Linked DNA regions of Homo sapiens: region 1 is linked to region 2. A link means that fine-mapping ties the variant in region 2 to the expression of a gene that starts in the linked region. Tissue or cell type: T cells. Region 2 holds a variant in brackets; the other region holds the start of a gene. All regions are shown on one strand. Distances are between the middles of the regions.

Evidence for each region. PIP is the estimated chance that this variant, and not a neighbour inherited with it, causes the effect.
Region 1: it holds the start of VTI1B, and the variant in region 2 is fine-mapped to the expression of VTI1B in T cells (TOPMed, PIP above 0.99). The same link has a PIP of 0.9 or more in aorta, blood mononuclear cells and lymphoblastoid cells.

What each region holds. Positions count from the first base shown.
Region 1 is chr14:67,673,436-67,676,076 of GRCh38, reverse strand. VTI1B (vesicle transport through interaction with t-SNAREs 1B) reads left to right here and starts at 1,445. Exons shown (of 6, transcript NM_006370.3): 1 at 1,445-1,702. The coding sequence starts at 1,588. It also overlaps a transcript of GPHN not described here. RefSeq lists silencers at 1,121-1,560, 1,661-1,770.
Region 2 is chr14:67,648,911-67,651,410 of GRCh38, reverse strand. It overlaps ARG2 (arginase 2), which reads right to left. Exons shown (of 8, transcript NM_001172.4): 8 at 1-696. The coding sequence ends at 491. It overlaps VTI1B (vesicle transport through interaction with t-SNAREs 1B), which reads left to right. Exons shown (of 6, transcript NM_006370.3): 6 at 1-2,500. The coding sequence ends at 26. It also overlaps a transcript of GPHN not described here. Among named protein-coding and RNA genes, the nearest start is that of VTI1B, 24 kb to the left of the region's middle. The variant G/T (reference allele first, on the strand shown) is at 1,122.

The DNA.
Region 1 (2,641 bases), 25 kb before region 2:
CACCCAGGCTGGAGTGTGGTGGCACGATCTCAGCTCACTGCAACCACTGCCTCCCGGGTTCAGGCGATTCTCCTGCCTCAGCCTCCCGAGTAGCTGGGGTTACAGGCGCCCACCACCACGCTTGGCTAATTTTTGTGTTTTTAGCAGAGACGGGGGTTTCACCATGTTGGCCAGGCTGGTCTTGAACTCTTGACCTGAAGTGATCCGCCCGCCTCGGCCTCCCAAAGTGCTGGGATGACGCGTGAGCCACCATGCCCGACGTGAAGACAGGAATTTATACCCATGGAGTGCAAGAAGGGACCTTGTAATTTTTAACACGTGACACTTAGTGGCAGATGAGACCTAATGAAGCCAGGCCCACCTTCCACACCAGATTATAAATTCCCCTGGAGCAGAGATTAAATGTTTTATTCACCAACATGCCCAGATCCCTCGCAATGCCTACGCTTGACAAACACCTGTTGTCAACAAGTGCACGAGGCAGCCTAGGAGGAGAATTAGTCTCCACGAGGAGAATTACTCGGGCCTAGCAGCTAGAGTATTTCGAGGTCATCCTAACTGGGTTCCACTTTTGAATTTTTGGTTTTTGGGTTTTTTGTTTTTTTGGAGACAAGATCTCGCTCCACTTGGGAGCAAGGTCTCCCAAAGCTGGAGTGCAGTGGTGGGACCTCAGCCTCCGGGGGTAGCTGGGGCCAAAAGTGCGCGCCACCATGCCCGGTTCTTATTTTGGGTTTCTGGTAGAGCTCTCGCTATTGTGCCCAGGCTGGTCTCGAACTACTGGGTTCAAGCAATCCTCCCACCTCGGCCTCCCAAAGTACTGGGATTACAGGCGCGAGCCACTCGCCCGGCCGGGTTCCACTTCTGAAAGCTTGGGGAGCCGCTGGGCCTTCCAAGAAAAGTGCTCCACCTCCCGACGGCAGGCAGAGCCCCTGGCCCGGCTATCTTTCCAGGGCCGAAAGCTAACAGTCAAGACGCGAAACGAGGAATTCGGGTCAGGGTGGCAAAGCAAAGCGCGATGACAGTGAGGACGACGTCTAGACGCAAACATACATCAAATCGGGCCGAAGCCCGCTGTCGCCGCGCGGGCTGAACCTGGCACCCGGAGCAACGCGCGACCCCGGGACGAGACGCTCTCGTCCGAGCCAAACTACATCCCCCGGCGTGCACTGCAGCGCCCGCCCCTCGCCGGCCGGCGGGGCCCGGGAGGAAGGCGGCCGCGCTGCCAGTCCCGCAGGTCCCCTAGGCCCCTTTCGCTGCGGCCTTTCCCCAACCCGGACCCGGCACTTCTCGGGTTCCGCGACTGCCGATCGCCCCGGCGCGGCACCGCTCCCTCAGGAGTCGCCTAGGCCGCGCAGTCTCCCGACTTCTCGTCAGGCTTTCGCGCCGGCGCTCCAGCAATCACTGGCTGGAGAAGGTGGGCGTTCCGGCTCGAGAGGACCCTGCCGCGGCTCCGGAAGAGCCTCGTCCTGGGCGGCGGTGGTGCGGCGGTCGCCGTTATGGCCACTGGGCTGGGCGGCTGACCGCCGGGCTAGGAAAGGGCCCAGGGCCCCGAATCTCGGTGGCCGCTGCTCCAGCGCGGCCTGCGCCATGGCCTCCTCCGCCGCCTCCTCGGAGCATTTCGAGAAGCTGCACGAGATCTTCCGCGGCCTCCATGAAGACCTACAAGGGGTGCCCGAGCGGCTGCTGGGGACGGCGGGGACCGGTGAGGCGGGGGTGGGCCACGCCGTGGGGAGCGCAGCCCTGCGCGCTTTGGAAGGAAGATTCTCCCACCTTCCTCCCAGACCCGGGCCCGCGTCTCCTCCCTCCGCGTCCTCAGACACGCCCCCTAGGGCTGGCTTGTCCCAGCCCCAGGTCTCCCTGCTGCCACTGAGAGTAAATTGGACCTCGGGATTCAGTTCCCTGGGATCCTTCTATGGCCTTCCACATTTTCTCATCTTTTTTCACTGTGGCAAATAGAGCAGAGGGGCTTTTGCATCTGCGGTCCTGTAATGTAGAGTGGGTTTCTTTCATAGCTGTTTTTGTTTGTTTTATGCATTTAAAAGCACTAGTCTCAAGACAGGTCTAGTTTTCACCAGACTGACAGAGGATCCGTAGCACAGAAAAAGGGTTAAAAACCCAAAGGAGTCATAATTTGGGGGTGTTGGTAAATACCAGTTATTGGAGGGTAGAGAGCTGGCCTTTAAAACCTGATTGTGGCATTTAGATGTGGTCTTGTTTTGAACGTTTTTACAGCTGAGACTGTTTACTACCCCTTAATTTCATGATTCAGGTTGCTACAAGTTCTGTCTGGAGGAGCTAGAGTTTTCCGGCCCTAAATCCATAGGAAAAGCTGCTATAGTTCTTGGCCTCCGGATATATAGAATTTGATGGCAAGGACAAAACTTTGTTTTATTGCTTTTATTTAAGAGTCAGAGCTTGGGTGTTTGCTCAACGAATTACTCAAGGTCATAGGAATTGAATGACTGGTGAGAATGAAATTCATGTATTTAATATATATTTATTGTGAGGCTGCTGTGTGCTAGGTGCTGGTGAATTGTGAGGCACCGTTCTAGGTGCTGGTGAATATTGCAAATTACAGTGAAAAAGATACGAACATCCCCATTCTAGTGGGTAGGTGATAAACAATATATAACTATTAAGA
Region 2 (2,500 bases):
ACTACAAATTCTTTCGCAGCCATTGAACTTCTATAGGGAAGGGTTTGTGGACCAGAACTTTGACCTTGTGAATGCATGATGTTAGGGATGTGGATAGAATAAGCATATTGCTGCTGTGGGCTGACAGTTCAAGGATGCACTGTATAGCCAGGCTGTGGGAGGAGGGAGGAAAGATGAAAAACCACTTAAATGTGAAGGAACAACAGCAACAAGACCAGTATGATATACCAAGGTAATAAATGCTGTTTATGACTTCTTTAAATTTACATAGTACTGTAGCATATTAATACCCTGTGAACTGCAAAAAACCAAATACATTTACAGTAGTATTGGTCACCAAAATAGAGGGGAAACTTTACAATTGTGAGAATGTGTAAATGTTCTCATTAAGGCAGTATTGACCCAGACAACCATTTAGTATTCATCTATCCCCTCAATGCCTCATAATTCTGGAATGCCTGTTGTGAAACATGTCAGTGCACAGTGTCTCCTAAATTCTCACACGTGCTTGATTTTCTGATTCATCTGGTGAACTGGGAGTAGGAAGTTGGTCATAGACAATATGCCCTCCTTCTCTTGTCTGACCAAAGCTTGAAGCAATCACATCTACTGCCAGGTTAGCTGTAGTCTTCGCCTCTTCCTCTGAGGTGGCCAACTGAGGATTGACTTCAACAAGATCCAGTGCTGATAGCAACCCTGGAAGAACAAAGTGTGACAAAACCTCAGGTTCCCTTGCTGCTACTCTCAGTGAGGGTCATCCCACTGGGACAGGGAGAACAAGCCAAAGTAAAAACAAGAGTCCATTTTATAGTAGAAAATACCTATTTTTAGGAAGCCCCTTGCACCTCATCCTCTTGGCCATGAATTTAAGTTAAAACACTGTTGTGCTATAGTAGATTAAAAGAAACCTTTTAAGATAATGAAATAAACCATCCCTGTTCAACTAACATAACAGGCATAATTGTCAGGCGTTCTGGAAAAGGAAAAGGCTTGGTGTTGGGTGGGGGAGGTTTTCATCCTGCTTGTTGGCAAAATGTATGCCACCTCCAGTATGACTAGGAACCTTCCAGATGCCTGCCTGGAAATGAATCAAGTATGAAGGCAGAGGAAATCTGCCACTT[G/T]CACTAGCCAAACTGCATTCCCACTTTTGAACTCTAATGTGTTATCTGTATCTGTTAGAGCACCACACCATATGCCCTGAAATGTAGTTATTACTGCAAACTTCATTCTCACCCCTGCAGGCCTGAGCTCTGGAGGCAGGTTCCACATCTAACAACATCTTTTTGTCTCCCAGCAGACTGACCCAGTGTCTTGTACTTGATCAAGAGAAAATTCAGCCATATGTTAATTATTTTATCTGGACTTCAGTTACCTTCTGTTAAGGTTTGAGAACTTGTGTCAAAGTTCTCGGTAGTGTTCCTTTGGCCTGGAGCAAGTGGAAGGGAAGCTTAAACCAGAAGAACCTATCCAGACCTGCTACTATGCTCACCCCTCTAAATGCCTCACTTCTCTATAGAATTTAACTTTTTAGTTGGTTATTCTGGATGAAGGGTGATCTGAACAAGCTAGTATTCAGGAATACAAGTATCTAAGAATATTTAGGGTGGCCATAAAGTCTGGAAACACAGGCAAATGTACCTAATGGTTTATTGATATTACACTATAGTACATGATGTGCTGAATGCCATCATGTCCGTTCAGCATCTTCCCTTATTAGCAATGCATAGTTGAGTGTACAGTGCCAAACTGCAACCAACAGGTGTATTACTGTAGCATTTCCATCATTTCCTGCACATGGACCTGTGTTCCTGATTTGTCTCTGATTTCCACTGACTAAACCTGCACCTTTAGCATATCCCAGAAGTGGTCATCAAAGTTTGCACTATTAGAAATATATACATGACTTATGTTTCCAGACTATTGCCACCCTATAAATTAAGCAAACTGCTTTATGTATCTAGTTGACAGCATTATAACAGTGCAGTGGCACAATCATGGCTCACTGCAGCCTCAACCTCCCAAGTAGTTGGGACACCTGGCTAATTATTTTTTGTAGAAACGGGGTCACACTATGTTGCCCACGCTGGTCTTGAACCCCTGGGGTCAAGTAATCCTCTTGCCTTGGCCTCCCAGAGTACTGGGATTATAGGTATGAACCACTGTGCCTAGCCCCATGAGTGTCTTTTGGAGTAAAATATTGTAGCATAGGAACAAAGAGACAAGCCATGCCATATATAAGTGCTAGAGGTTATTAACCCCTGCTCTAAGTGGTGTTTTTAGGAAGCAAAGCAGAGAATTGAACCCCCAAGTTCTCTGGCCAATAACCTAAGGACCACTGGCAACATCTAAGATTGCAGATCTGAGAATTAGACCAGTACTGCCTGCCTTTTTGTACTGCCTAAGGTTCTGGCAGGCTGTGGCGCTAAGGAGACCATTTCTCAATGTGAGTTTCTATCCCAGCTAGTCAAGGGTTCTCTATAGCCCTGAACCTTTCAATCTG